2 separate regions of the Homo sapiens genome follow, and region 2 is reported to be linked to region 1. Evidence: microRNA targets listed by miRTarBase, many of them from high-throughput screens and not tested one by one. Region 1 holds a microRNA gene; the other region holds the end of a gene's coding sequence.
What was found. The annotated mature microRNA hsa-miR-185-5p reads UGGAGAGAAAGGCAGUUCCUGA and lies in region 1 at 3,234-3,255, shown strand. An mRNA with a match to its seed (bases 2 to 7 or 8) in the 3' UTR can be bound and repressed. Matches are read on the target gene's strand: a 7mer-m8 pairs with bases 2 to 8, a 7mer-A1 pairs with bases 2 to 7 and ends in A, and an 8mer does both.

Region 2: miRTarBase lists ISCU as a target of hsa-miR-185-5p. Seed matches in the 3' UTR shown: 7mer-A1 at 6,997-7,003.

What each region holds. Positions count from the first base shown.
Region 1 is chr22:20,029,920-20,038,215 of GRCh38, forward strand. It overlaps MIR185 (microRNA 185), which reads left to right and starts at 3,220; the gene lies at 3,220-3,301. It overlaps TANGO2 (transport and golgi organization 2 homolog), which reads left to right. Exons shown (of 9, transcript NM_152906.7): 2 at 6,841-6,935. The coding sequence starts at 6,880. RefSeq lists enhancers at 1,234-1,930, 2,365-2,584, 4,268-4,337.
Region 2 is chr12:108,568,481-108,576,005 of GRCh38, reverse strand. It overlaps ISCU (iron-sulfur cluster assembly enzyme), which reads right to left. Exons shown (of 5, transcript NM_213595.4): 5 at 6,638-7,175. The coding sequence ends at 7,090. Among named protein-coding and RNA genes, the nearest start is that of ISCU, 9.6 kb to the right of the region's middle. RefSeq lists an enhancer at 6,921-7,070.

The sequences.
Region 1 (8,296 bases):
TTTGTCACATCTGTGTGAGAGGAGCTGGACTTTCTCAGATATGGATGAGCCTCACGACGCACATCCTTTCGTCCCTTGCTTGTCTACCAAGTCCCTATGTGCTCCAGGAGGCAGTGGTACAGGCCAGCCGCTCCGTATGACCAGAGAACCAGTGCCTCACACTCCAGCGCATTTCCTTCCCAGGGTGCACCAGGACTCTTGTAAAGAGGGCATTCTCGTGTAAGCAGTTGCTTTTTTTTTTTTTTTTTTTAATTTTTATTTTTTTGAGATGGAGTTTCCCTCTTGTCTCTTAGGCTGGAGTGCAATGGCACGATCTCGGTTCACTGCAACCTCCACCTCGTGGGTTCAAGTGATTCTCCTGCCTCAGCCTCCTCAGTAGCTAGGATTATAGGCACGCACCACCACACCTGGCTAATTTGTTTGTTTGTTTGTTTGTTTGTTTTTTGAGATGGAGTCTTGCTCTGTTGCCCAGGCTGGAGGACAGTGGTACGATCTTGGCTCACTACAACCTCTGCCTCCTGGGTTCAAGCAAGTCTTCTGTCTCAGCCTCCCAAGTAGCTGGGACTACAGGCGCCCGCCACCACGCCCGGCTAATTTTTGTATTTTTAGTAGAGACAGGGTTTCACCATATTGGCCAGGCTGGTCTCGAACTCTTGACCTCGTGATCCACCCACCTTGGCCTCCCAAAGTGCTGGAATTACAGGCGTGATAATTTTTGTATTTTTAGTAAAGATGGGGTTTCACCATGTTGGCCAGGCTGGCCTCAAACTCCTGACCTCAGGTGATCCACCCGCCTTGGCTTCCCAAAGTGTTGGGATTACAGGCGTGAGCCACCTCGCCCAACCAGCAGTTGCTGTAAAATTTTTTAAAAGGATGTCACTTATACTACCCAGTCATTAAGACTTCCTGAGGTGGAAAGATCACTTCAGCCCATGAGTTTGAGAATAGCCTGGGCAACATAATGAGACCCCACCTCTCCAAAAAAATTTAAAAATTAGGGCCAGGCGTGGTGGCTCATGTCTGTAATACCAGCACTTTGGGAGGCCAAGGTGGGTGGGTCACAAGGTCAGGAGATCGAGACCATCCTGGCCAACATGGTGAAACCCCATCTCTACTAAAAATACAAAAATTAGCTGGGTGTGATGGCACGCACCTCTAGTCCCAGCTATTTGAGAGGCTGAGGCAGGAGAATCGCTTGAACCAGGGAGGAGGAGGCTGCAGTGAGCTGAGATCGCGCCGCTGCACTCCAGCCTAGGTGACAGATCGAGACTCTGTCTCAAAAAAAAAAAATTAGCCGGGTGTGGTGGTATGCAGCTGTAATCTTAGCTACTTGGGAGGCTGAGGTGGGAGGATGGCTTGAGCCCAGGAGTTCGAGGCTGCAGTGAGCTATGATCACACGACTGCACCTGGGCGACAGAGTGGAGGTGATGTGCTTCCTCAAATAGCCATGAGAACAACGCTTCTTTTCTTGTCCTGGCTCAGGAACCTCACCACCATGCCACGTTGCCCTGCTGCGCTGTGCTGGTGTCGTAGGTCGGTGGCAGGACATTTGCCCACCTCACAGGCTCTGCTTTCAGTCTTGAAGTATGGCTCCTCTCGACTGCTGCCCACACGGCCTCCTGTTGTCAGCCTGGGCTACATATCTGGGCTCTTCCATCCCTGTGGGCCTGGTGAGGCCTGGCCATGTGCCTGTGTCATGCCAGTTGCTTTCAAGATGATGTTTCTAGTAGGACCACATGTGAACACAGTGACCACCATGGCCAGGAGGAAGCTGGCTGCCCATCACCAGCTTGCCCAGGGACCTCTTGCACCCTGGCGGGGATCAGCAGATCCTGCTATGAGAGAGCAGAAGGCAGCATGCTGACTTCCAGGAGTGTCCACAGCGTGGCTGGGCAGAGCAGAGCTACAAATGAACAGATCCAGTGCCGAGGCCATCCTGACTCTCTCAGGGGCTGCCAGGCCGTGGGTGCAGGGTCCAGCAGGCCCACTTGATCCCAGCATCCCACGTGTGCCTGCTCGGGGTGGCCAGCTCACTGCTTCTTCACCTCTAGCCCAACCAGCAGGTGCCCCACCATGAGCCCCTCCAGGCTCACCTTGCCCATCCCTGCCATGTGACCTGGGACTCTTGAGATGAGATCACAGCTGCAGAGCACACAGCACAGGGAGGAGCTCATCAGCATCTTCCCACCTGTGGTGCCCTGGCCCAGCCTCCTTCCGGTTGGGGTTGGACCCGCCCTGGCAGCCAGGTTTTGCGTCACCTGCCCCACCCGCCCTGTAACCTACTTGCCCAACTGCTATCCCGGTGGCCGTGAGGCCAGTTGACAGAATGGAGAGGGGTAAGCATTTTCCGCCTGGAGAGGATGGGCGTGTGGCCATCTGACTGCTTCTGCAAGCCTGGTGGTTGTGTGCAGGCTGCCCTGGTGGTCTTAGCCCCTTGGGGCAGGCGGGGTCCTGTGCAGGATGCAGAGACTGGGCGTGGCTTCCTGCAGATGTTCAGATGCTTCTGGGCTGTGGCCTCTGAGACCCAGGGCAAGGCTGCTGACTGGACCCCAGACCCTCCTGCCTGCCTCTTCCTCCAGCTGCTCTTTGTGGTCTGGTTCTGGCCGCCTGGGCCTCAGGGCCAACCCTGCATGGCTTTGACCACTCTGGCCTTCTTGGACTGCCAAGGACATGCTGAGAGTTGGTTGGGCTTGGCCCAAGTGCTGAGCCCAGGGCAGGGGTGGGGACAGGCAGGGCGGAGCCTCACCTGGAAAGCCAGGCACGATTCTCCCTGGGACACCAACCCTCCTGTAGAGTTGGCCAATTCGGGCAACCTTGAGGGCGAGCTCTGTGTGGCACAAGAGATGCCCTGAGGAGCCCAGCCTCACCTGGTGTGATGGGACCTGTGGAAGTTGTGGGAAGTGGTCCTGGCCACCCGTGTGCCCACATGCCCTGCGCCCAGATCAAGATATGGTGACCAAAAGGACAAGGACTATATCCATGGCTCCCTCCCAGAGCCTGGCAAGTCAGCAGGCATGAGAGGGTGTTGGAATGCTGTGGTGGGCCTGTGTGGGGACCTTGTAGGACCTAGGGAACCTGCAGGGCTTGGCTTAGGGAGCACACAGGGGCCCAGGCAAAGGCAAGGTCACAGGTCGGGGGAGGTGAAGCTGGCAGGGGGAGGGGGAGACCTGCTGGCTAGAGCTGGGTTGGGGGCCGGTGGGCAGTGGGCCTGGCTCGAGCAGGGGGCGAGGGATTGGAGAGAAAGGCAGTTCCTGATGGTCCCCTCCCCAGGGGCTGGCTTTCCTCTGGTCCTTCCCTCCCAATGACCGCGTCTTCGTCGAGGCCACAGCCCTTGGCTCTGCGCCCACACCTCCAGTGCCAGGCTGTCCGGAGATCTGTTTATGGCCTTCCCTTGGACCATGGAGCCCTCCCTGCCACTGGTGCCTGGAGGGCTGGTCTGCTGCCCCTGCACCCTGGCCAGCTAGGATGGTGGGGTCCTGCAGCTGAACTGGGGGTGCCTTTCTGCCTGTCTGTCCTACGTGTATCAGTGGCCAGAACTGCCCTCATCCATGGCCTTGCCAGCAGCTGGGCGTGCAGCCCAGGGAGGGCTGAGGTCGGCTGAAGTTGATTGAGACCAACGGCCTTCTCTAACACCCCAGAGGAGCATGTCCCTGGTGAGCAGGCCTTGGGCAGCCCTGGGCTCCAGGCCAGTGGGATTCCAGTAGAGACCAGCTGGCAGGGCTTCTCCAGTGACTGCAGCCAGGGGTTCTCATGTGCAGGAAAGACCAGCTCCTCCAGAGTAAAGGGACTTGTGTCTTCTGGCCACATGGTGAGTGCTGGGCCCACCCCATCAGTGGCACCTTGGGTGCACTCCCAAAGCCCAGCGTGTTCCCCATCTTCCTGCACTGCATTCGGGATGGTTCTGCATCATCAGCTGCACCTGATTGCTCTTAAACCCACAGCTGAGCTTTAATGTGCAGTCACTGAAGCTTTCATTTCTAAAATAGCTTCCTAAGAGTTCTTTTGGCCAGGCATGGTGGCTCATGCCTGTAATCCTAACACTTTGGGAGGCCGAGGTGGGTGGATCACCTGAGGTCAGGAGTTGGAGACCAGCCTGACCAACATGGAGAAACCCCGTCTCCACTAAAAATACAAAATTAGCTGGGCGTGGTGGCGCATGCCTGTAATCCCAGCTACTCGGGAGGCTGAGGCAGGAGAATTGCTTGAACTCGGGGGGCGGAGGTTGCGGTGAGCCGAGATTATGCCAGCCAGCCTGGGCAACAGGAGCAAAAACAAAACAACAACAACAAAAAAAAACCGAGTTCCTTTTGCTGCTTTGTAAACCCAGTTTGCTCTTCATCACTTCCTTTGCCCTGCAGATGTTTCTGAGCTGTCTGTTTTCTTTCTGCCATCAGAGCATGGTTGGTTGATGATGCATGTACGGTTATCTTTCTGCTGGTTCTTGCTCATGGTGCTTCTTTCATTATGTGGTTCTTTCTGACTATGTACTGCTTCTGGTCTTTGAAAAATGATTTTGAGACTTCTTTGAAGTATAGGATGAAGGTATCTTTCTCCAGAGAGAACTTCAGGCACAGGGGCACTACGAGTGCTGGAACCCCTTAAAACTGTGCTTGGCTTGTGGGTCCTTGTACCCCCAGTGTGGACCTGGACGGCTGGCTGTGCCACAGCTTCTCAGAAACTTCCCTTCACTTATGTGCAATGTCCCCATAACCCCTGGGGGTGGCTGCGGCTGTAGTTCATCTCTCCCTAAGCATCGCTCTTTGGAGTCCCAGCCTAACTTAGAGGAGAGTCTTCTGTTAGGTTCTTCATCCTGTGGGGGTGACTGGACCTTGTCTTCTGTCTCCTTCGCCCCCGAGGCCACCAGAGTATGAGCCCCAGTGTGTTCAGTGGGCAAACGCTCTCAGGCAGGATTGGCCACTGTGTTCTGCTGTCCTCTGTGGGCCACGCTCTCCGAACTGTTGGCCAAATGCTGCATGAGCTCATCAGCTCCTGGCAATTTTTAAGATGTTTTCATATTTCATCCAGCATCTTGAGTTGTTTTTACCAAAAGGATTGCCCCTAGTAGCCTGCCCACCCTCGGATGATGGCCCCCTGTGGGCGCTTCCAGGGCACCCGGCAAGGGGACCCAACCCACTTCCAGCCCCACAGTCTGCTTCCCACAGGGCCCCCTTGCAACAACACACCCTTTAGCTTCCCATCCTATGCAGAGTGGTGGCCAGCAGACCATCTCAAATGGCTGCCCATCCCCCTGACCCAGTGCGTCTGCACGTGGCGCTTATTGCTATCCCAATACTTCAACTGCACAGCCACCAGCTCCTCACTGGAGCAGATGGTCCCCAATGGCCATCCCTAATGCCCGTGCCTATGGAGGCACATACACTGAGCCCTCTTCACCTCCGTCCCCACTCATTAGACTTTTCTCAGAGGAATCTTTTTGGGTCTCTTCAGTATTTGAACAGCTTCTTGGCTGTCCCATGTCCCAGCTGTGAGCACTGGCTCTGCCCTGGAGCCGTGTCACTAAATCATTGCACATGTGCACATTTCAGGGAACTTGGGTGTCACCCTTGGGTGGCCTCGGAATCTAATCTCCGTTCTGCACTCGTTTGCATTGTGGAAAACTGCCTGCTCTGGGCCCCAGAGGTCCCTGGGTGGGGACGAGGTGTATGCTAAGTGTGCAGTCACCCAGCGTGTCCCCGGCACGTGTCCATGCCAGCTGCTGTGGGTGTGTGGGGCCTTCGGGTCCTGTGGGATGGCGAGTGTGTGTGCTGAGCAGGACCTGTAGGGCCTGCATCCCAGGTGAGTGGGCCATGCTGTTGGAGGCGGAGGCAGGGCTGCCCCCACTGGTGGCGTGTGGGGTGGGTTTGGTGCTGTTGCAGGGGAGGAGATGTGCATGTGGGGGACAGTCTTGAAGGAAGAATGTATACAGTGGTCTATTTCCAAGACAAAGTGTCTTAAATTGGCTTAGCTCAGCAAACTACAGAAGAAACAGGATATACTAGGCCACCCTGCTTGGATAGCTGATGTGTGCTTGTCGGCCTCCACTTTCCCCGCACTTAGTTGCCTTCACCCGAACCAAAGAAGTTCAGTCTAAGCTGAAAGTTTACTAGCCTGCAAAATAGCTCATTTTGTCTGTTCTTATCAGCCTGCCTGCTACTTAGGTCGTAAGTTAAATACTTAAAAAGTCCCTGAGCTAACTAGGACTGCAATGCATTGTGGGCTGCAACAAAATACAGCAAGACAAGCCCCCAAAAAAACACCTGAAGCCCCTACCCAACAATTAATAGGCGACGTCCGGGAAAATTGTGACCCCACAGTACTCGGCCTATGAGGAACTGGGGGAGGGACCTGCGTACTAGGGGATAAATTGCTTGTCGAAACTGTGCTGGGTGTGCCTGTCTGACACCTGATCTTGCAAGACTGTCATTAAAAGTCTCACTTTCGCTGTTCTCTGGGTCTGAGTTCATTCTTTAGATTTGGATGGGTAAGTTTGTTTCTCACAGTGTGGCTCCTGCCCTCACTTCTGCTGCCCCCCGGGGACCCCCTCGGCACCCCAGCTCGGTGTGTCCAGGCCTTAAGACTACCATGGTGCTGATGGGATGCTTCTGTTCAGGGCTGGTGTTGCAGGTGGTGGAGAGACAGTCTGGCCAGTGCCAATGAGTGCATGGGTTTGGGAGTTGTTTGTGTGGCACCGGCCAAGAGTGTGGTGTCCAGTTCCCCCACACCCAGCAAGTAGTACAGACACCACAGAGGTGGTTCTCTCTGTTCTGGCCTGTTGCAGGTTCGGAGGGCAGCCCTGAGTGTCTGCCATCCGCTCAACTCAGTGTTTTCCTTTTCCCGCAGACCTCGCGACCTGTGTCAGCAGAGCCGCCCTGCACCACCATGTGCATCATCTTCTTTAAGTTTGATCCTCGCCCTGTTTCCAAAAACGCGTACAGGTAACCCCCTCGCTCTGCATCTGCTGCGCCCTGCAGGGTCCTGGGTGCCCAGCCAGTTCTCATGCCACCCAAGCTGCTGTGTGCAGGAAGGTGTGTGGGCCAGGACGGGGCTGCACAGGCCTGGCACTGCCCTCCAGGACAGGGTCACTCAGTGTGGGATGCTGTCAGAATGCCTCTCGGGGCGGGGACTCCAGTCAATGTACAAAGACGTGAAGACTCAGCCACAGAAGGCAGCCACAGGTAGGACAGAGGAGTGACATGGGTCCAGGTGGGCTGCAGTTCTATGGGCTTTGAGGAGGGTCGGGCGGCAGAACTGGGACAACGGCGTCAGTGAGTGAGAGCCAGCTTGGGCTGGCGGGTCACAGCTGCTGGTGAGAAGTCAAAGTGGCGGCCAGGCTAGGGGTCTGTGGGTGGGTCCTGAGCTGAGGAAAAAGAACCTGGGGAAGAGGGGACGCTGAGGACCAGCCAGAGGAGTCAGGAAATCGAGGCCAGAAGCCACCCCTGACCCTGGACTCAGGACGGCCACACCTCCATTCCCCAGGACACCCCAGCATTTATCCACACAGAGAACGAGGCAGAGATATAACCCACATCTAAAATGAAACGTGTAACCACTCTCTAATGCAACTGCTCGGGAAGTTTTCATCATTTTAAAATCTGTACCAGAAATGATTTGAACCATTTCAAGAGGGTCTCAGATTTGAGTCACTGCAAAGTTGCATAGACACCATGCTGCTTGACTTCAAGGCTGAGTGAAGTCATTTCAGGCCAAGGAATCAGGAAGGAAGGGTGTCTGGTGTTTTCCCTTTTTGCAGTTGGGTGAGTGGCAGGTCCCAGCAGCAGACAGCATGCTGCAGGGAAGGTGGAAGAAATGTTAGGAAAGAACTATTGACTGCTACAGGGACTGGAGTAGTGTTGGGCTGGCTAGTGAGTGAACAGAACTCTAAAGAATGTAGGGGCTGGCCGAGCACGGTGGCTCACGCCTGTAATCCCAGCACTTTGGGAGGCCAAGGTGGGCGGATCACAAGGTCAGGAGATCCAGACCATCCTGGATAACACATCTCTACTAAAAACACACAAAAAAATTAGCTGGGCATGGGGGTGGGCGCCTGTAGTCCCAGCCACTTGGGAGGCTGAGACAAGAGAATGGCGTGAACCTGGGAGGCAGAGCTTGCAGTGAGCCGAGATTGCGCCACTGCACTCCAGCATGGGCAACAGAGCGAGACTGCATCTCAAAAAAAAGATGAAGGTAAAATAAGGTCATGTGGGTAGGCCCTAATCAATGTGATGGGTGACTCAGATACGCACAGGGGAAGCTGGTGTGTATACAGAGATAGAAGCAGTCGTCTGCATACCGAGAA
Region 2 (7,525 bases), not on the chromosome of region 1:
ATGGTGAAACCCTGTCTCTACTAAAAATACAAAAATTATCTTGGCACGATGGCACGTGCCTGTAATCCCAGCTGCTCGGGAGGCTGAGGCAGAGAATTGCTTGAACCCGGGAGGTAGAGGTTGCAGTGAGCCAAGATCATGCCACTACACTCTAGCCTGGGCAACAGAGTGAGACTCTGTCTAAAAAAAAAAAAAAAAAAGAAAGCAAAGCAGCCTTATTGCTGTTGTGGATTGCACATCACCATGGTCTGGAGAGAAGATCAAACCAGCCACAACATTTCCGTAAGCCGAAGCCCAATCTAGAGCAAGGCCCTAACTCTCTTCAATTCTATGGAGACTGATGGAGGTGAGGAATCTGCAGAAGAAAAGCTGGAAGCTAGCAGAGGTTGGTTCATGAAGTTTAAAGAAGCCATCTCCATAACATAAAAGTGCAAGGGGCAGCAGCAAGTGCTGATGGAGAATCACATCAAGTTATCCAGAAGACCTAGCTATGATCACTGACGAAGACGACTACACTAAACAACAAATTTTCAGCTGGGTGTGGTGGCTCACACTTGTAATCCTGGCAGTTTGGGAGGCCAAGGCAGGAGGATAGCTTAAGACCAGGAGTTCGAGACCAGCTTGGGTAACATAGCGAGACCCCCATCTCTATTAAAATTAAACAACACATTTTGGCTGGGCCCGGTGCCTCATGCCTGTAATCCCAACTCTTTGGGAGGTGGAGGCGGGCAGATCACTTGAGGTCAGGAGTTTGAGACCAGCCTGGCCAACATGGTGAAAACCCATCTCTACTAAAAATACAAAAATTAGACAGGTGTGGTGGCACACACCTGTAATCCCAGCTACTCAGGAGGCTGAGGCACAAGGATTGCTTGAACCTGGGAGGCGGAGGTTGCAGTGAGCCAAGATCGCACCACTGCACTCCAGCCTTGGCGACAGAGAGAGAATCCACACGACAGGTGTGGTGGAAATAGCAAGAGAACTAGAATTAGAACTAGAGTCTGTAGATGAGGAGTTGTTTCTTATGGATAAACAAAGAAAATGGTTCTTGAAATGGAATCTACTCCCAGTGAAGATGCTGTGAACATTGTCGAAAGAACAATAAATGATTTAGAACATTACATAAGTATAATTGGTGGGCCTGGCATGGTGGCTCATGCCTGTAATCCCAGAACTTTAGGAGGCTGAGGCAGGTGGATCACTTGAGGACAGGACTTTGAGACCAGCTGGTCAACACGGGGAAACCCCATTTCTACTAAAAATACAAAAATTAGCTGGGCATGGTGGTGCACGCCTGTAATCCCAGCTACTTGCGAGGCTGAGGCACAAGAACCACTTGAACCCAGGAGGCGGAGGTTGCAGGGAGCTGAGGTTGTGCCACTGCACTCCAGCCTGGGCAACAGAGCAAGACTCTGACTCAAAATAAGGAAGGGAAGGAAAGAAAGGAAGGAAGGAAGGGAAAGGAAAGAAAGAAAAAGAAAGAAAGAGAAAGAAAGAAAGGAGAGAGAGAGAGAAGGAAGGAAGGAAGGGAAAGGAAAGAAAGAAAAAGAAAGAAAGAAAAAGAAAGGGGAGAGAGAGAGAGAAGAAAGGAAGGAAGGAAGGAAGGAAGGAAATAAATTTGGTGAAGCAGTGGCAGAGTTTGAGAAAATAGGTTCCAATTTTGAAAGAAGTTCTACCATGGGTAAAATGCTATCAACTAACACCACAGGCTGTAGAGAAATCTTTTGTGAAAGGAAAAGGCAATCAAAGTGATGAACTTCAGCGTTGTCTTATTTTAAGAAATTATGGCTGGGTGCAGTGGCTCGTGCCTGTAATCCCAGCACTTTGGGAGGCCGAGGAGGGCGGATCACCTGAGTTCAGCAGTTCAAGACCAGCCTGGCCAATATGGCGAAACACCATCTCTATTAAAAATAAAAAAAATTTGCCAGGCATGGTGGCACATGCCTATAATCCCAGCTACTCGGGCAGGAGAATTGCTTGAACCTGGGAGGCAGAGTTTGCAGTGAGCCAAGATCGATCGCAGCCCTGCACTCCAGCTTGGGCGACAGAGCGAGATTCCATCTCAAAAAAAAAAAAAAAAAAAAAAAAAAAAAAGACATTGCCACAACCACCTCAACCTTCTGCAACTCCCAGCCTGATCAGTCAGCAGCTGTCAAAATTGAGGCAAGACCCTCCACCAGCAAAAAGATAATGACTTACCGAAGCCTCCAATGACTGTTAGCATTTTTTTTTAGCAACAAACTATGTTTATATTAAGGTATGCACATTGGGTTTTTTTTTTTTAGATATAATGCTATTGCACACTTAACAGACTCCAGTTTAGTGTAAACATAAGTTTTATATGCACTGGGAAAATTTGTGTGACTCGTTTTATTGCAACATTTACTTTATTGCAGTGACCTGGAGCCGAACCTGCAACATCTCTGAGGTGTGCCTGTAATAATACCAATGCAAATAGTAATAGTGAAAATAGCAGTAGAGAAAGTACAGTCATAGCATGCAGGGGCTTGGGCTCTAGATCAAACAGCTCTGAGCTAGAATCTTGATCTTACCATTTGCTGACACATCATTTTACCTTTTAGTTTCTCTATCTGTAAAATGGGATATTGATAGTACTTTAGGATTTTTGTGAGGCAAATGAGCTGATCTATATAAAACACCCAGCAACAGTGCCTAGTATGTAGTCAGGGCTGAAGTGTTACCTGTAATAATGAGAACCACCATAACAGCAATGAACTATTTTTTTTTCCTTTTTCTTTCTTTCTTCTTCTCCTTCCTCTTTTTTTTTTTTTTTTTTTTAAGAGACAGGGTCTCACTCTCTCACCCAGGTTAGAGGACAGTGGTGCCATCACAGCTCACTGCATCCTTGAACTCCTGGGCTCAAGGGATCCTCCCACCTCAGTATCCCAAGTAGCAGAGACTACAGGTGCATGATACTGTAGTGTGCACGACAGGTGCACGACACCACAGCCAGCTAGTTTTTTTATTTTTTGTAGAGATGGGGTCTTGCCATCTTGCCCAAGTATTGACAATTGTTGCAAGATCTCAGTTCTTGCCTTCTTAGTTTAAAAGAATATAGACAAGAGACACACAGCAAAGGGGAGGTGCAGCATAGAGTAATTTATTGCAGAGGAAAAAGAACATTTTGAAAGTTAGGTACAGAAAGGACAGGACACCCTGAGAGAGACAGGATTTAGGGCAGGCTGCTCTTAAGGACAGCATTGATTATTGCTGGGAGACTCCCTTTGTGGGGGTTTTACATCATTATTCATAAGGGGTTGAGAGAGGTGTTACTAGTAAGCATGTTCTGGGTGGTCCTTTCGGTGCCCACGCACAGTAGCTGTACGTGCTTGTTCATACATTGCATGTCTCATTCGCATCTTAAATCTCCACCTAGGGGTGTGTTTTTTACTCTTTTAATGAGCAAAGGGTCAGTTTGAGGACAGCTAAATCAAAGTGCGCACACTCTCTAGAGGGGAAAGTCCCTACTGAAGATAGCTTTGCTTGAGCTTTGCTCAATTACAATGTGAATGCTGAGGCTTATTGTGTTGACTGTACAGTCATCACGGATGCTGCATCTCGAGGACATGGTCACTTCCTTGACTACCTCTCCTGCCTCACAGGCTGGTCTCTAACTGCTGGGCTCAAGCAATCCTCCTGCCTTGGCCTCCTAAAGTGCTGGGGTTATAGGCATGGGCCACTGTACCTGGCCAACAGTGAACTCTGTGTGCCATGTGCTTTCCATGTATTATCTCATTTAATCGTCAGGTCTACCTGATCAGGTAGGTACTATTATCTTTCCCATTTTGCAGATGAATAAACTGAGGCTTGGGGAGGTTGAGCCTTTCGCTCAGGGTCACACAGCGGTAGCCAGCATTTGATTCAACACTCCAAGCTCACTCCACTCTGCCCTGCTGCTTGCTCCCTGGGTGGAGATGATCTTCTCTGGGGAGGTGGCCTTTTGAGGGGCTGGCTGATGTCATCTCGGGGGGTGGGGAAAGCAAGCAGACAGGCCTCCAAGAGCCATTGGCAGGGGATGTGCTCCACGTCCATCTTTGGTTGGGGCTGGAACTCATCTGTAGGGGCCCTCTAACACCACCAAAACTTGGTGGGACCTAGAAGTCTTCTCTTCTGTCGTGAAGATAGACACAAGGTCTGCACTCTTGCCTCAAGTTCAAAGGGCCTGAAGTATCGAGAAGTGTGCCTCATTTGTTTGTCTTTTTAAGAAAATTCATCCTAGGGCCAAGTAGTTTTTACAAGACAATGCTTAATGTGAGGTTCTAGAACTGTGCATTTGGATGTGGTCCCGGGTGGCCCTGGTCCAGGAATCACACTTAGGAAAGGTTACATCCGAGATGTGGTCATAGCTGTAGTGTGGCACTCAGGAGAGGGTGGGAGGTGGGCAGAAGACCTCAGCCAGAGCTCAATTCTACCACTTCCTAGCTGTGTGCCTTGAGGCAAGTCATTTCACCTCTCGGAGCCTCTGCTTCCCCATCCATCCATCTGCCCATAAACCCACCCAGCCCATCAGGTGATGCCAGTGCCCAGGCCCCACCTCCAGAGCATTGGATTTAACTTGGCATCAGGATTTAATTAGGCTCCTGGTGGGAGCCAGGGTTGGCGTGAGGGCCATGGTGCTTGGCAGCCAGTTGGCCAAGAGAATGCATCAGGCTCAACCTGTGTTGGTTCAGCTTCTTCATTGAATGTTCAAGGCACAGGTGAGCCTCTGATGTGCAGTTTGAATCCCTGGTGTGTTCTGCCAGGAGGGGTGAGGCAGAAGAATGGGCTTTGGGTCACTCAGATCAAGCCAGTTGGCCTGAGGGTCAGTTGGCTTCTTGAGCCAGTGTCCTTGTTTGAATCAATGCCCACTGCAGGCAGCTGTCATGAGAATTAACAGGATTACAGATGTAAGGGCCTGGAACAGAGCACAGGTGCTTGACAGACCATTTTAACTTATCTGTGGAGGTTTTCCATGGACAGGTTTATTTAGAGATGCTAAGACCTATTTGGAGGCTGCAAAAACCCCTAGACTTGAGTTCACTGAAGGGCACATGATGCCCTCATGTGGCTCAAACTAGATTTGTTTGGGGAAAGAGTGTCTTTAATGTGAATTTAAAAAATATCCATTTGTTTTAGCAGTACAACCACGTTTAGAGACTTGGGCTCTTCTGGGAATATTGCTTTGTTTATAAGCTCCTCCTGATGTTCAACTCTGAGGATGTTCACTGGGACAGAAATGTCTCATTTAAATTAAAAAAATCACAAAGAAAAGTGGTGGGGAATTGTGGTGGTGCCACATGTAATAAAGAAGGGAGAGACAAGCTCAGTCTAGAGGGACTGTGAATTAAATTGCAGAACATGCCACACAGGACAATTTTACATGGTTCTACCCAGGGTTCTAATTTGAGATTCCTATAAAGGCCCTGGTCTGTGGCTGCCTTCACAGACTACAGAAGGAACAGTCTTTGAAGTTCTGTGCCCTCCACCAGAACCCAGAGCATTAAAACAAAAAAACAAAAAACAACAAAAAAAACAAGGGAGGTATATTTAAGAGGCAGCCAGCCTATACCTGAACAAAAAAACCACCACCAGAAAAAACAAACACATCTTACTTTTGAAGCTGAACATTTGAGACTATGGCAGTCAATATTTCAATAACCCATTTTCACTAGAAGATAGGGCATCCTTTATTGAGATTTGCATGACTATGGGTAGCTAAAAATAGGGAGACATCAGGGTAGGAGGGCCCGTGCTTAGACTTATGCCCAAGCCAGGGATGAATGTTTGTTTGTTTGGCTTTGAGACGGAGTCTTGCTCTGTCTCCCAGGCTGGAGTGCACTGGTGTGATCTTGGCTCACTGCTACCTCCACTTCCCAGGTCAAGTGATTCTCCTGCCTCAGCCTCCCGAGCAGCTGGGATTACAGGTGCGTGCCGCCATGCCTGGCTAATTTTTGTAATTTTAGTAGAGATGGGGTTTCACTACCTTGGCCAGGCTGGTCTTGAACTCTTGACCTCGTGATCCACCCGCCTTGGCCTCCCAAAGTGCTGGGATTACAGGTGTGAGCCACTGCGCCCGGCTGGATGAATGTTTTTTAAACAACCTTAGGTGTACTATGCAGGTACAGATAGTTCAGAATGAACCACTTAAGATACTACATCTATGCAGAACACAGCATTCAGAAGTTTCTTCCCTAAAGTTTGGCTCATCTACGACCACAAAAAACCCAAGAGGTTCTTAAAAGTCAGGGGCTCTGGAATTACCTGCCCAGACAGAAGTCAGAAACTTGGGCCTAGAAATCCGCATTTTAAACTCATTCCCGAGGTGCTCTTCATGTATCTGGTCTACCGCTTTAGGGTGCCAAGCTAATGCTTTTTAGATTTGAGCAACCAGTGAAATTACAGAAAGAATCTTCAAGACTTACTTTGAGCTTTCAACTACTATCACACAAAGAACAATGACAAGCGATAATCATCTCCTTTCATCCTTGTTCCAAAAAATATTACGTATATTTGTCTTTGTTTGCTTGGAGAGCTGTGTATGTCACTGCGGTCCAACCTCTGGGAACCCCAAGGGGCTTTGGGCACCACTTCAGGGTGAATGATGGGCCCAAGAGACAAGGCTTACTAGAGAACACCATCATCTTCCATTATTTTATTATTTTTTATACATATATATATATGCGCAATCTGTTTTATGTACAACAATTGGTTCTATCAAATATTCAGACCAAGGCATTCTACTGGTAATTTCCCCCCAAATCAATTCAGGTAAAATTAGATACTTATGCACTTCACGGGCTATCAAAACTTGCAACTTCATTATCAATTTCAGTTCTGAGGTCATACACACAATTCAAAATATACATTAACTAGGTTAAGGCGATAAAAGTGGGCTGAAAGAAACCACAGGATTCAGAACAATGAAACTGTGTATTTTGCTTGCATGAGAGTCATAACGTGAACAGCAAGTATTGTGCGTATCTCATAGCTCTTCAGTGGAGAGGAAGCGGCTTCTGAACATCTAAGGTGACTGCACAGCAGGTGGGAAACAGCTGGTGTGGCCTGCTGGAGGCTTCGCCGAGGGAGGGCTCATTTCTTCTCTGCCTCTCCTTTTTTGGGTTCTTGTTTCAATTTGTAATCAGCCAGGGCGGCCTTGATTGCATCTTCAGCCAGCACTGGAAGTAACGGAAGGAAAGAAGCCTAAGTTTCTAGATGTGAAAGAAATGGACTTGGGAATAGAATCTTTAAGAGCTGGGAGGAAGTGGTGCTGGTGGGGACTAATGGAGTAACCAAGCCAGAAAGCTGGGGTGAGGAGTTGCTGGGCACGTCAGCAGCTGCTTCCTGAGCTGAGTTACTCCTGCGGGTGATCCTGGAGACAGACTAGGGTTAAAAATCTGTGATCCCAGGCTAGTTCCTTAGCCTCTTTGACCCTACTTTCTCTTCTATAGAACTGGGATAATCATGCTTTTCTTGCCAGGATAGTGTGGGGACTTACAGAAGATGTCTGACACATAGTAGGGACACA